Regions from separate parts of the Homo sapiens genome. Here region 1 is linked to region 2. The links come from fine-mapping of genetic effects on gene expression. Tissue or cell type: whole blood. Region 2 holds a variant in brackets; the other region holds the start of a gene. All regions are shown on one strand. Distances are from middle to middle.

Region 1 (8,000 bases), 240 kb after region 2:
GTTTCATGGAGGACAATTTTTTTCAATGGACAGTTGGTGGGGGATAATTTCGGGATGAAACCATCCCACCTCAGATCATCAGGCATTAGATTCTCATAAGGAGCGCACAACCTGGATCCCTTGCATGTGCAGTTTACAATAGGGTTCAGGCTCCTGTGAGAATCTAATGCCGCAGCTGATCTGACAGGAGATGGAGCTCAGGCGGTAATGCTCATTTGCCCACAGCTCACCCCTGCTGTGAGGCTGGGTTACTAACAGGGAGGGTACCAGTCCCTGGGGGTTGGAGACCCCTTCTTTGCTGCACTTTGCAAATATTGTTTTTATTTATTATTATTATTTTCTTTTATTTTTACAAATTTAAGGTTTGTGGTAACCCTGTGTTGAATAAGTCCCTCAGTGCCATTTTTTCAGCAGCATGTGCTCACTTCATGTCTCTGTGTTAGATTTTGGTAATTCTCACAATATTTCAGACTTTTTGTATTATTCTTGTATCTGTTATGGCGGTCTGTGATCACTGGTCTTTGATGTTACTATTATAATTGTCTTAGGATGCAATGAACTGTGCCTATGTAAGATGGCAAACTTAATTAATAAATGTTGTGTGGTTCTGACTGTTTCACCAACTGGCTGTTCCCCCAACTCCCTCTCTCTCCTGGGGTCTCCCTATTCCCTGACCTAATATTGAAATTAGGCCCATTAATATAACCCTACAGTGGTCTGTAAGTGTTCAAATGAAAGGAAGAGTCTCATGTCTCTCACTTTAAATCAAAAGCTTAATAGGGAGGAAGGCATGTCAAAAGCTGAGAACTAGGCCTCTTGAGCCAAACTGCTAGGCAAGTTGTGAATGCAAAGGAAAAGTTCAAGAAGGAAATGAAAAGTGCTGCTCCAGTGAACACACAATGATAAGGAAGCAAAACAGTCTTATTGCTGACATAGAGAAAGCTTTGGTGGTCTAGATAGAAAATCAAACCAGCCACAACATTCCTTTTAGCCAGGGTCTAATCCAGAGCAAAGCCTTAACTCTCTTCAATTCTATAAAGGCTGAAAGAAAGGTAAAAAATCTTCAGAAGAAAAATTTGAAACTAGCAGAGGTTGGTTCATGAGATTTAAAGAAAGAAGCTGTCTCCATAATACATGAGTAAAAGGTGAGGCAGTAAGTGCTTAGGTAGAAGCTGCAGCAAGTTATCCAGAAGATCTAGCTAAGATCATTGATGAAGGTGGATACACTAAACAACAGATTTTCAATGTAAATAAACATCCTTATATTGGAAGAGGATGACATCTGGGACTTTCCCAGCTAGAGAGAAGTCAGTGCCTGGCTTCGAAGCTTCAAAGGACAGGATGACTCTCTTGTTAGAGGATAATGCAGCTGGTGACTTTAAGTTGGAGCCAATGCTCATTTGCTATTCTGAAAATCGTATGGCCCTTAAGAATTATAATAAATCTACTCTGCTTGTGTTTTATAAATGGAAAAAGAAAGCCTGATAGCAGCACATTTGTTTACAGCATATTTTATTAAATATTTTAAGCCTACTGTTGAGAGCTACTGGCTTCACAAAAAGATTCCTTTCAAAATACTACTGCTTATTGACAATACATTTGGTCATCCAACAGCTCTGATGAAGATGTACAAGAAGGTTCATGTTGTTTTCATGCCTGCTAACACAACATCTGTTCTGCAGCCCATAGGTCAAGGAGTAATTTTGCCTTTCAAGTCTTCTTATTTAAGAAATATATTTTGCTAGGCTACATCTGTCATAGATAATGATTCCTCTGATGGATCTGGGCAAAGTAAATTGAAAAGCTTCTGGAGATCATTCACCATTCTAGATGCTAGAAGAGTTGCTTCTGTGGATGAGCAAAGTAGTTTTTTTTGAGATGGAATTTACTCATGGTGAAGATGCTGTGAATATTGTTGAAATGACAACAAAGGATTTTGAATATTTTATAAACCTGACTGATAAAGCAGTGGCAGAGTTGAGAGGACTAACTCCAATTTTGAAAGAAGTTCTACTGTGGATAAAATGCTATCAAGCAGCATTGCATGTTACAGAGAAATCTTTTGTGAAAGGAAGAGTCAATTGACACAGCAAACCTCATTATTGTCTTATTTTAAGAAATCGCCACAGCAATTCCAACCTTCAGCAACCACTACCCTGATCCATCAGCAGCCATCAACACTGAAACAAGACTCTCCATCAGCAAAGAGATTAGGAATCACTGAAGGCTCAGATCATCAGTACACTTTTTTTAAAAAAAGCATTAAACCATTTTCAAGGTAAGATATGTACATTTTTAAGACAAAATGCTATTGCATACCTAATGGACTGCAGTATGGTGTAAACATAACTTTCACATGTGTTGAGAAACCAAAAAAATTGTGTGACTCACTTTATTGCAATATTTGTGGTGGTTTGGAACCAAACCTGCAACATTTTTGAGGCATGCCTGTAGAAGGTAAGAAGTATCAACAAAAAATTTCTGTTAAATTAGGAGAATCTTTACTACTTTGTTTCCTTTGAAGAGAATGCAAAAGATTTTATTTTGTCTAGGAGATGCTGGAAATAGGAATATCTTGATCTAAAAATTATTGGGAATTATTTACAAAAAGCACAGAGGTTATGATAGAATTTCAGCATCATATGACATTGGATAAGAAATTTTGTTCTATTTTGTAATTAATTTATATATCTGTTCTCTTTACTTTTTCATATATTGTAAAAACACAGTGGGTTTAGTTAGAAAAATAAGGCTGAAAATGTCCCACACTTAAACAATACAAATAAAATTTTAACAAGATGACAAAACTATAGATTACAACCACAAAAAGTTAATGAATTAGAAGGTAGAAAGATTATAATGTATGCTTTATGTTTTTTTGTATGTGTGTGTGTGTGTGTGTGTGTGTGAAAAGAAAGCCAATGTTCTAAAGTGATTTTGTAAGTGACTTCTTTCTAGTACAGAGTCCAAGTTTCCAATGTCATTCCTGCTTGAATTTCATCACACTATTGAACACAGCAGACAAAAAAATACTGTAAGATTTGCAGTGCAACAGTGCCAGGTGTTTTAAAATGTAAACGTTGCTTTCCTGGATATAAGTTACTATGTAAGTGGAATGAAATATTTAATCACATGGCATAAATCTTTTGAAAGAGACTATCTGAGAGATCCTTGGAAACAAATGATTGCTGTATACTACTAGACAAAGTCAAATATGCCATAGAGCAATTAGTTACGGTAAAACTTGCCTTGTTTAGTTTTGGTGCTTTGTTTTAAATGATTTCAACTAGTCTCAGCTATTTAAAAAATACATTCTTTTCTTTCTTTATGACTGTGCTAATTTAGATTATCAAGTTAAAATAGAACTGCTCCAGAAATTCAGAGTGAATGGAAGGGTGTTTAATAATAACTTTAATACACATTTTACAATTTTTGAACATACAGAAACATTTTGAAAGCAAACCCCCAGCTCAAATAGTAAGTTCACAAAAATCTAAATGTTAAGGTTACAGATGGGACCTAGCTTGATTTGGACTGATGTAACAAAACTTTATAAAATCGGTGGAGCTATTTTTTATAAAAATGACCACCTCAACATAATTAAATTACTTGATGCATTTTAGATACAAAATATGGTTGATTTACTAAGCATGTTAAGATAAAATAGCTAAGTGAAGCACATATTCTATATTTCTTTGTAAATATGGTATGTAGTATTACTTTTATTTTATAGCTGGTGAAGAGAGCTTGTGATACCTAATTTGTCAATGGTTTCAGTGAATCACAGCTATATAAAAGCACAGACCTTTAGAGCTGGAAGGAATTTAGCTATCTTGACCATTATTGGTCTAGTTGAAAAAGAGGTATGAAAACTGGCTCCAAAACCAGATTCTTGAGTTATCTTTCCTTGTAAAGGACTTGTAAAATTTCCTGGGTCAGCATTCCCTTTCTTTGTTTCAGATTTTCTTTTTCTGAATTCATTCTTACTAATTATTCATTTTTGAATAGTCTTCTAATCACTAGATTAAGGTTTTGCTCATCTCCAAACATGATCGAAGTGAGCCTCAGAAGACCCTTCATTTGAGCTCATATGCACAGCGCTTAAACCGACACCCAATTTGACCAAACATGTAAGGACATGACCTTCCAGCGTCATGAATATCACGACGTTCCTTTAGCAAGGGCTTTGCTTAATAGGGCTGCAGTGAAAATCCTCCGTCTAAATCCTTGAGAAGTTGTAATTTGTAAAAATGCAAATTATCTGAAACCAGATATTTTTTTCTTTTTCTTTATGGAGAGAAACTGGTCTGTTACATCTAGTAAAGCGTTCTAATCCGGTTGACCCTCTAGAGGGAGACATAGTCCAGCTTTTATACCAGTTGCCTCCTCATCTTTTACTGTCTCGTTCTTTTTCTGCAGGACCGTTGTTTGCTCTCAACGGCAGTTGCTGGGGCTAACAGAACTGGCTGTTGGGAGAGAGAGGCGAGGCAACGCCGCCCGGCCCTGCCATTCCATTTTACTGCTTAACTCAACCTGGAGTGTCAGGACCTATTCTCCTGCATTCTCGCTGCACTATACGGGGGAGCCAAGTCACTCTGTACTCACTGGACAGCCAGGCTGGGTGGAATAGGGTTCTAGAGTGGAGCAGGGGCTCTGCCCTTTATGGCGACTTTCTAAAAGATTAGCATCAGTGTCTTTTGACAGTATAGCATCTGGGGTGGGACGCGGAGAGGAGGCTTTGCTTGCTAAACGGCTTCTTTCTCCGCCGGTGATCTGGATTTGTTTCCTCGGCCCCCTCCCCCCGCTCCTTTCTTTCTCCCCTCCCGCCTTTAGCAAAGTGACACAGGCGACACCTGCTCGCTTGTGTTCGATGTTGGAACTCGCACCTCCTCGGTGGTGACGGTGCCAGGGCACTGCTACCAGGGGGACATCGGCGGGTTTCCCTTCCTTCCAGCCCACGATGCCTAGAAGGGCAGCGGGTGGGCTGCGTGGGGCTCTGCCCGCAGCACTTCGAGGCGGGATTGAGGGGCTGAAGCTGGCCAGGAGTTGCTGCTAAGTGGATTCGAGTGGAAGGCGCCAAGTCTCCGCGAGGGCACCAGCGGGGACCTATCTGCGAGCAGTGGGAACAGGGGCACCTGGACGGAGGAACGCGGGCGTCTGGAGGGGGGACATCGGCTGAGCTCAGAGCCTCTCCTCCTTCCTGTCCCGAGCTTCCCAGCAACTCCGCCACGTTGGAGACCCGGTACCTGCGAGAGCCAGGGAACTCGAGAAGTGCGTGGCCGAGGCTGCTTTCCTGAAGGTGAATCATTCTGTCCAATTGCCTTTCCCCAGAGAACAAGAGGGAGGGCGGGAGAGAGGGAACGGAGGATGTGTGAGTGTGTGTGTGTGTGAGAGGGAGAGACGACGTGAGGCGAGAGGAAAAGTCTTTAGTCGGCCTTAAAAGCAAACAAATCAGAGATGGAATAAGAGCGGTAATTGCAGCAAGACCGCCTTGATTCTTGCAGTCCAGGGAGCTGAGCGCACCGCGCGCATCCGGCGAGGACAGGAGGCGACCGCGGGCGCTGCCAAGGGCTGCGGGACTTTGGCTTTTCCTCAGTAAACAAATCTTTTGATTACTTTGACACTGTGGAATAAAGAAGCGGGGAGAAGGATCAGGCTCACCTTCACCCGCTTCAGGGGGATTCCAGCTTGGATGTCAGATTCCTGAACCGTCTTTGCCATCGGAGGAGGAAACACATCCACACACGCGCGCGCACACTCGCACGCTCAGGGCCACACTCACACGCCGCCCTCCACGATCACACAGCACCAGACTTCGGTTCCCTATGCCCCTGGATGGTGACGGCGGATTGGCATCTTGGAAGCGATGCGAGAGCGATAAGGCTGGCGCCGGCCCGCAAAAGCTGCAGGAGCATCGCTAGGTGTTGCCGCCACCGGGAAGCGGGGCTGCAGGTAGGTGCGAGCCGCGCCTCGGGTCGCCGGCCAGCGCTGGGGACCGGAGCGGCAACTGCAGGACCGCGGTCCCGGAAGCCCCCGTGTGCACACGTCTCCCTTCCCCTTTCTCGGGGGTCCGGGACTGTAGAGGGATCGCCCGGGGAAGGCGAGAGGTGAGGGCAGATGCGGGTCCATCGGCCGGCGTCTCCCTCGCGGGCGGTCAGGGTAGGGGCGGAGTAGAGGGACGCCGAGAGGGGATCGGAGCATGCGAAATGAGGCTCCGTGAGCGGTGCCCTCCCTCTCTGCCCCATTTCTCCTAATAACAGCAAACGACCAGGTCGAGGATTGAAGTGGGTTGTAATTCGATTCCTCACCCAGACCCATCCTGGCTGGTAACCATTTTGGACTCTTAATAAGGAGTTGGGGGTCGCATTCCAGGGAAGATCAATGGGATGTGTCAGGTCATCTTTCTGAAATCCCTACTTTTTGTCCACTTCTGATTAGTTAATTCTCAGGCCTGTTTGCAGAAGGTGGGTGTTTCAGCGAGTCTATTGATTTATCCACCTCTAACTATCTTCATAAAGAATCAAGCTGATAATTTCCGGAGCCTCATCTATGTAAGGTTTATTTAGATTTGGGACGGGGCGCTTTCTTACTGAATGAAATAAAGCTTTTGTAAAGGCTACTACAAGAGAGCTTTAGTAAATGATTCTCTTAACGAACAGCGTTCAGAATAAGAATGGCTTCGGGAAACTAATGGTTTTTTATTTCTTTCCGGTTAGATGTCTCCCGGATCTTGCTACTAGTACCCGGGTTTTCTGCTAACTGCTTTGCCATTCCTTCCCCCTTCAATTCTGAAAGGCCAGGTGCCTACCAAGTATTGTTTTCTTGAGGCTACTGATCTTCACTTATCAATGGGGGAACGTGTTATTTTCAGAAACTGGCTTTGCAAAGGAAAGTTTGAGATCCGTCGCCCTATTTCTCTCAGAACTGCAGGTTGAGTTATCCTGTCTGAAAAGGAAGAACCATAGACGCTCGTAGAGCCTTTGGGTGGACGCGAGGCTTCCCTATTGAGTATTCCACGTCCTGACCGAGTGTTAAACAATTGCCTGAAGCGTTTGGAATCAAATGTGTAGTAATGTTACTCCAGCGGCTAGTCTCTCTTCACCTTTGCTGCGTGAGTTTGATTATGGCAATAAGAGAGAGAGAGGGAAAAAATTATCTTTTTGTGAGTATGAAATCCCCTCTTGGATTTTACAAAATGGTTCGTGGAGAAAAAAAACCTTAAAAACCACAGACACACACACACACACACACACACACACACACACACACAAAGCAAACTCATAAGCAACCTTTACTCTGAAGTGTCCCCAAAGTACTTGGTAGTGTAGCAGGGTCCTTCACACAGGACAGGATGAATTTCAGTTACTATTGACTGAATGATAATTATCTGATTCTTGTCTTCTCAACTAGATTGTTTTAAACATCAACATTCAGAGTTGTCAATTAACACTCCTAAACTGCTTTATTAGGCATATAAGTTAAGACAAATGAACAATTAATTTAAGATTTTTGTGTAAAGTGCTAAACCAAAATAACCAGGAAAGGAGATTAAAAACACTTCTAAAGCTTTAAAAATCAGAAGATTAAGATTATTTGTACTTACCCCAGCCTTTCCATGTTTGCATTTGTACTCTCAGACTGATTAATCATTTGCAATATCAAAATTGGCACCTAACATCCTATATTTCAAATAAAAGATCAGACATGTTTGTCTCTTTCCTTACTTTATTTTGTTTTGAATCTCATCCTGAGTCAATTGTTTGAGTTGACCTTTCTTTTTAGAATCTTAATTTTTAAAGCCACCAGTAGCCACTTAAAGGCCATCAGTTACCACACTGGAGCTTATAAATATTTTCATTTTCCTAATTTTCAATAAAAAAGTTGGATTGTATTATTTATAGATACTAAAAGTCCGTGAGGTTGATGTCACTGCCAACTGAATACTTAGGCACAGGGAATCTTTTAAGAGGCAAATGGCTTTAGTGTGTTGTTTTATTCAG
Region 2 (8,269 bases):
CATAGAAAGCACAAATATTCTTTATGTTTAAACTTGAGAGTTACATATCTTGAGATGAAGGATTATAATAACCACTAACTGACCAAACAGAAGATGCTTCTGCACTAGTGTGATGCCTTCAAATACTATTTACAAGTGCTTTGAGAAGTTTTCTTTGTTTTGTTTTGTTTTGTTTTGTTTAGACAGGGTCTCACTCTGCCGCCCAGGCTGGAATGCAGTGGCGTGATCTTGGCTCACTGCAACCTCCACCTCCCGGGTTCAAGCAATTCTCATACCTTAGCCCCCTGAGTAGCTGGGATTACAGGGGCGCACCACCACGCCTGGCTAATTTTTGTATTTTTTTTGGTAGAGACGGGGTTTCACCATGTTGGCCAGGCTGGTGTTGAACTCCTGACCTCAGATGATCCACCTGCCTCCACTTCCAAAGGTGCTGGGATTACAGGTGTGAGCCACCATGCCCAGCCTTTCCTTTTAAAAAAGAAAATAAAATGTAAATAAATCTATGGGCATGTCATCTTTAACAAGAGGAAATATTGGTTGAATATAGTGATGTTATTTATTCATATATAAAATACCTTCAGACCCACGTATTTAGTGATGCTCTGTGTATAATTTTGTACCTTTTTGAATATATATACTATTAGGATGCCTGAATCAGCTCTAGGAGGTATTTCTTCCTCAGTTAATGGCATCACTAATTGAACTGATCACCCAGTATATACCCTCAGTCTCAAAATGTCCTCTTCACATGCCCCGGAGTCTTGTGGAAAAGAGACATAGAAATTACTTTCATTGATGGAGATTTGGACACAAATCCACAGAGTTGGCCTCATGAGGTGCCTGAAGACTTCTTTCTTTAATCCCCTCATCCAAGTACTCAGTGTTAGGAGTTAGGATTAGGTTTGTCTGTATATTACAGAATACTCAAATAACACTGAATTAAATCAGGATTTTTTTTTTCTCTTACATAAAGAAGTCTAGATTTCTATTTCAATCCAAGATGGAGTAACAGGGACTGGATTTACACTCTTGCCAAAAACAACCAAAAATAAACCAGATAAAATATATGAAATAGCATTTCTCATAATATTGGGCATCAGTCAACAAAAGACAGTCATCACTGAGAGATGGGAAGTAAGTAGTAGGGCTCTATGATTTCCTCAGCTTACTGCCTTGAGAGTTTGCAGGCTATAGTGCAGAGAAAGAGAAATGGGATGGAGTGTAGTGAACATCCTGGGTTGAGAGATGTAGTTGATAGTCCAAGGAAACCAAGGTACCTCAAGCTTGCAGGGCAGAGTGCTTGGAGTGGAGATTTTCTTCACAAAGAGCAGATCTGCTGAGGATACACCCTTCAGGGTACTGGTCAGGGCATAAGTGTGAGAAAAGAAGTTGAGTCTGGAAGAAAAAATCATCCCGAAAGAGTAAAGGAAACCGTGACTGGCATTCACTTGGGGCTGGGAACTCAAAGCATGTGACATTGGGTAGAATGTCTTTTTTGGAGAAATGTCTTTTCAAGCCCTTTGCCCATTTTAAAATTGTGTTATTTTGTTTTGTTTCATTTTTTGCTATTGAGTTGTAGGAGTTTATTATATTTTAGAAATTAACCCCTTATCAGATATATGGCTTGGTTCCTGTTTGCACCAGCCATAGTGAAAAACTTAAAGCATGTGACGTTGGGTAAAATAGTCAGCAGAGCCTTGCTTCAGTAGTGGGGAAAAATTAGCTCTAACTGAGCATTCCTATGAACCTGTCAAACAAATCATAAAAACAAGATCTGAAACAGCTTCTAGGTAATTTAACTGCATACCAGAATAAAGCTCAATAGTATTTATTGGAATACAGGCAAATATCCAATACCCAATAAGCTAAAATTCACAGTGTCTGGTTTCCAATAAAAATTACCAGGCATGCAAAGTGGCAGGAAAACATGATCCATAACTGGGAGAATAATTAAACCATTAAAATGAATTCAGAACTGATACAGACATTACAATTAGCAGACAAGGATATTAAAATAATAAAATTATATCCCATATACCCAAGTCAGGAACATGGAAAATATAAAAGACACTCAAATGAACTTGGAGGTAAGAAAAATGCAAAGTATAAGATAAAAATACAATATATGGGAAAATCAGATTAGACAGAATAAAAGATTAGTGAACAAAAATAAGTGAATTTGTTTTGCAGTATATTGCAATAAAAATTAACCAAATTGAAACATTAAAAATGAATTTCAAAAGATGAAAGCATCTTCAGTGAACTGTGGGACAACTTCTAGGGACTAATAAATGTATAATCAGATTCTTCAAAGAATAAGAGAGGAATACAACAAATATTTAAAGAAATAATGGCTGAAAATTTTCTAAATTTGATGAAACAACTAAACCCACAGATCAAGAATGACAAACTCCAAGCACATGAAACATGAAGAAAATGACACTAAGGTACATAATGCTCAAATTGCTCAAAGCCGGGATAAATGCAATTTTAGTTTCCTTTACAATCTTTAGGACTTTTCTTTTTCTTACCTATTTAAGACCTGTAGTACAATGTTGAATAAAAGTTGTGAAAGCATATATTTTTGCATGTTGCCTCATTTAGAGGGAAAGCATTCAGTATTTCACCATGAAGTATGATGTTAGCTATAGGTTTTCCATAGATTCCCTTTATCTGATTGGGGAAGAGCCTTCTTAATCTCAGTTCACTGAGTTTTATTCATAAAAGATATTGTTGTTGAGCATCTTTTCACATACCCCTTGGCCATGTGTATGTCTTCTTTAAAGAAATGTCTTTTCAAGTCCTTTGCCCATTTTTAAATTGTGTTATTTTGTTTTGTTTTGCTATTGAGTTGTAGGAGTTCATTATATTTTAGAAATTAACCCCTTAACAGATACGTGGCTTACATGTATTTTCTCCCATTCCATAGGTTGCTTTTTCATTCTGTTGATTATTTCCTTTACTGTGCAGAAGCTTTTTAGTTTGATGAGCCCTGCTTGTCTATTTTTGCTTTTGCTGCCTGTGCTTTTCGTGTCATATGGAAACAATCATCGCCAAGACCAATGTCATGAGGATTTCCCCCATTTTTATTCTGGGAAGTTTACAGTGTCAGGTCATATGTTTAAGTCTTTCACCCATTTTGAACTGCTTTGTTGTGTACAGTGTATGATAAAGGTATAATTTCATTCTTTTGCATGTAGATATCCAATTTTTCAGCATTATTTGTTGAAGAGACTCTCTTTTCACCCATTGTATGTTCTTGGCACCCTTGTCAAGGACATGTTGGTGGTATATGTATGGATTTATTTCTGGGCTTTCTATCCTATTTCATTAATCTATATGTCTATTTTTATGCCAGCACCATAGTGTTTTAGTTACTGTAGCTTTGTAATCTATTTTGAAATCACGAAGTGTGATGCTTCCAACTTTGTTCTTCTTTTCCAAGATTGCTTTGGCTATTCTGAGTTTTTTATAGTTCTATATGAATTTTGGAACTGTTATTGCTATTTCTGTAAAAAAAAATGCCTTTCGGATTTTGATGAGCATAGCTTTGAATATGTAGATGACTTTGGATAGTATTGGCATTTAAACAATGTGAAGTCTTCAAATTCATGAATATAGTGTATCTTTCCATTTATTTGTGTCTCCTTTAGTTTATTTCATCAATGTTTTATAGTTTTCAGTGTAGAAGTCTTTCACCTCTGTGATGCTTAATTTTAGGTGTCAACTTGACTGGATTAAGGGATGTCCGGACACCTGGTAAAGCATTATTTATGGGTATGTCTATTAAGGGGTTTACAGAAAAGACTGACATTTGAATGAATGCATTGATTAAGGAAAATCCACTCTCACCCAATGTCAGTGGGCACCACTCAATCAGCTGAGGGCCTGGATAGAACAAAAAAGGCAGAGGAAAGGTAAACTAACTCTCTGTCTGTCTGTCTCTCTCTCTCTCTCTTTCTCTCTCTCTCTCTCTCAGAGCTGGGGCACCCTTCTTCTCCTGCCCTTGGACATCAGATCTTCAGATTATCTGGCCTTGGGACTCTGGGGCTTATGCCAGCCACCCCACTCCCACTTCAGGTTTTCAGTCCTTCAGCCTTGAACTGAGAGTTACACCATCATCTTCCCTAGTTCTGAAGACTTTACACTTGGACTGAGACATATTTACACTTCCCTGGTTCTCCAGCTTACAGACAACCTATCATGAGACTTCTTAGCCTTCATTATTATGTGAGCCAATTCCCCTAATAAATCTCCTTCTATCTATCTATCATCTATCTATCTATCTGTCATCTATCTATCTATCTATCTATCTATCTATCTATCTATCTATCCTATCTATTGATACATCCTATTCATTCTGTCCCTCCTAGAAAACACTGACTGACTAATACAACCTTCAACCTTCTTGGTTAAGTTTATTCCTAAGTATTTTATTCTTTTTGAT[A/G]CTATTATAAGTGGATTTGTTTGCTTTTCTTTTTGAATGGTTCACTGTTAGTGTATAGAAACACAATTTATTTTTGCATGTTGATTTTATATCTAGCAACTTTACTGAATTTATCTATTTTTTTTTAAATTTTTTTTCTTGAGATGGCATCTCACTCTGTCGCCCAGGCTGGAGTGCAATGGCGTGATCTCAGCTCACTGCAACCTCCACCTCCCGGGTTCAAGCGATTCTCCTGCCTCAGCCTCCTGAGTAGCTGGGACTACAGGCACCTGCCACCACACCCAGCTAATTTTTATACTTTTAATAGAGACAGGGTTTCACCATGTCGGCCAGGATGGTCTCAATCTCTTGACCTTGTGATCTGCCCGCCTCGGCCTCCCAAAGTGCTGGGATTACAGGCGTGAGCCACCGCGCCCGGCTGAATTTATCTATTCTAACAGGTTTTTTGTGGAGTCTTTATCAAAACTACAGTGAGATATCACCTCACACCTACCAAGATGTCTATTTAAAATATATATATATAACAAATACTGGTAAGGATGTGGAGAAATTAGAACCCTTGTACACTGTTGGTAGGAATGTAAAATGTTGCATCCGTCATGGAAAATCATATAGAAGTACCTCAAAAAATCGAAAATAGAAGTACCATAAAATTTCACTTTTGAAATTTTACTTTTGAGTGAAATCACTCAAAAGTAATTTCACTTTTGAGTATATGCCCAAAAAATTAAAATCAGGATTTTGAAGAGACATCTGCATTCCTATGTTCACTGCAGCATTATCCACAACAGTCAAGATATGTAAACAACCCAAGTTTACATCAACAGATGAATGGATAAAGAAATTGTGGATAAAGAAAATATATATGCAATAAAATGTTGCGTATAAATAAAATGTTCATCCTTATAGAATAAGGAAATCCTACTATTTGCGACCACATGGATAAGTCTTGAGGACATTAGGCTAAGAGAATAAGTCAACATACAAGGACAAATACTGCATGATTCCACTTATATGAGGTGTTTATAATATTCCAACTGATGGAAATTACAACTACAATTATGGTTGCCAGGGGATGAAGGGTAGGGGAAATAGGCGTTGTTCAATGGATATAAAGTTTTAGTTATGCTAGATACATAAGTTCTACATATCTGCTGTACAACATTATACCTATAATTAACAATATAGTATTGTACACTTCAAAATTTGTTAATAGGGTAAAGTTAGGTAAGTGTTCTAACTGCCTACTGCGCCCCCCTACCTCGCCAGAAAAAAACCCACAAAGAAAATCAAGGGAACTTCAGGATGCGATAAATCTATCTATTACTTTGATTGTAGTGGTGGTATCACATATGTGTGCATATGTCCAAACTCATCAAATTGTATGCATTAAATGTATGTGATTTTTATATATCAATTGTACCTCAACACAGTTGTTGAACAAAAGGTGTTGAATCTGCTGAATGCTTTTTTTCTGCAACTGAGATGATCTTACGATTTTTTCACGGGTGATTAGTTTTTAAAAATCAATTTGTAAACTTTATTGTTACTCCTAATGATACAAAAACACATACTATGATTTGTCTCTAAGTTTGTATAAGTGAATTAGGTTTTTTATTTGTGGCAAAAAAACATAATAAAATTTACCATCTTAACCATTTTTAAGTAACTATAGTCACATTGACATGTAACACATCCCTAGAACTTTTTCATCGTGCACTACTAAAAGTCAATATCCATTGAACAACAACTTGTAGATTGATTGCACTACAAACACAAAAATTTGCCTGGCATGGTGGTGTGCACCTGTAGTCACAGCTACTTGGGAGGCTGAGGCATGAGAATTGCCTGAACCTGGGAAGTAGAGGTTGCAGTGAGCCAAGATGGCACCATTGGACTCCAGCCGAGATGGCACCATTGCACTCCAGCTGAGATGGCGACAGAGTGAGACCCTGTTTCAAAGAAAAAGAATAAATAAAGTGGTGTACTTATAAAGTGGGGAAAATGGAGACAGACCCAGAGAAAGGGAGAGTGTCATGTGAACATAGACAGAAATTGGGATGATGCAAACAAGCCAAGGAACATCAAGGAAGAAAAGGTAGGCAAGACATGGAGAACAGGCTCTCGTTCACAAACCTCAGGTGGAACCAAACCTGCCAACACCTGGTTTCAGACTTCTCTACAGAATTACGAAAAATAAATTTTTGTTGTTTAAGCTATTTTTCTCTCTTAAGTTTGTGGTACTTTTATTTGGCAGCATATTTGGCAGAATATGATGTCACCCAGTCTAACAATCTCTATCTTTTAATTAGTGTGTTTAGATCATTTTCATTTAATGTAATTAGTGATATTATTGGGTTTAAGTCTCCCAATTCATGATTTGTTTACTTGTCTTATCTGCTTTTTGATTCTTTCACCTTTTTTGCATCCTTTAGTATGATTTGAATACTTTATTATTCCTTTTTAGTTTATTAGCTTTTTGGCAATGTCTTTTAGATTTTTTTGTCTTAATGGCTTCTCTGTAGTTTAAATTATACATACCTTACTTAACCTTTCCCATTTTATTCAGGTTAATATTTTACTACTTAAGTAAAAGGTAGAAACCTTACAACCACACAGGTTGTTGTACCCTCCTCTCTTTATCTTACAGTTGTCATATGTATTACACTTACAGACATTAATATTCCTACCAGGCAATGGTATAATTTTGAGAGGAGATTTATTTTACCCTATTTTAAGCTTATTAAGTTAGCATGCTATAATTTCATGAATGCTGAAGACACTAGAATCCTGTGTCAGAGACAAACGATGTTTTTATTCACACACACCAGTGGCAGAAACCAGAGAATCAGCATTTTGTGCTGGTTCCCTGAGCCCCACACCCATGAGGTAATGTAAAAGGCCTAAAGAAGCCAACATGCACAGTGGGTTTATGGGGCCAGAGGAAAGGAACATCAAAATTAATGAGTCCCATCTGTACTAAAAATACAAAATTAGCTGGGCATGGTGGCACATGCCTATAATCCCAGCTACTTGGGAGGCTGAGGCAGGAGAATTGCTTGAACCCAGGAGGCGGAGGTTGCAGTGAGCCAAGATTTTGCCATTGCACTCCAGCCTGGGCAACAAGAGTGAAACTCCATCTCAAAAAAAAAAAAAAAAAAAAAAAATTAAGGAGTCTTTCACTTTTATGGCAAGCCACAAAGAGGCCAGCTTTTTGTCTGAGAGCACATATTACATCACCTTTGATAATTACCAGCTGCATAAACAACTCTGAGAAATGACCTGGCTGAAAGAGTTGTTAGGGCCTTGCAATCTTTACACACTCCGCAAGACATGTAGGAGTACAAGAGGTCCGTAGCAGACTGCCTCCCAATCATATTTTGCTTTCCTCAGTAACACACATTTTTCAAAACTTAAGGGGAGAAAAATAGATTATTATATTTACTCAGACTGTGATAATTTTCATTGCTCTTCTTTCATTTTTCAAGTTTTAAGTTTCTGGTGTCATTTTCCTTTAGCCTGAGTAATTTCCTTTAAGTATTTTTTAGAGCTGATTTGCTGGTGATGAAGTCTCACAATTTTCCTTCATCTGAGAATGTCTTTATTTCCTTTTTATTCTGAGGGATATTTTTGCTGGACAAAGAATTCTGAGTTGACAGTCTTTTCCTCTCTTGACAGTTTAAAGGTGTTCCATTCTCTTTTGGACTCCATCGCTTCTGATGAGAAATTCAAAGTCATATAAATAATGTGTTAGGTCTTTTGATATTGTCCCATGGGTTCTTATTGCTCTTTTTTTTTTTTTTTTTTTTTTTTTTTAAATCT

The links. PIP is the estimated chance that this variant, and not a neighbour inherited with it, causes the effect.
Region 1: TAFA2 starts here. The variant in region 2 is fine-mapped to the expression of TAFA2 in whole blood (INTERVAL, PIP above 0.99).

The regions. Positions count from the first base shown.
Region 1 is chr12:62,189,211-62,197,210 of GRCh38, reverse strand. TAFA2 (TAFA chemokine like family member 2) reads left to right here and starts at 4,438. Exons shown (of 5, transcript NM_178539.5): 1 at 4,438-5,952. RefSeq lists a silencer at 2,849-3,143 and an enhancer at 4,513-5,046.
Region 2 is chr12:62,425,724-62,433,992 of GRCh38, reverse strand. No RefSeq gene overlaps it. Among named protein-coding and RNA genes, the nearest start is that of MON2, 37 kb to the left of the region's middle. The variant A/G (reference allele first, on the strand shown) is at 4,448.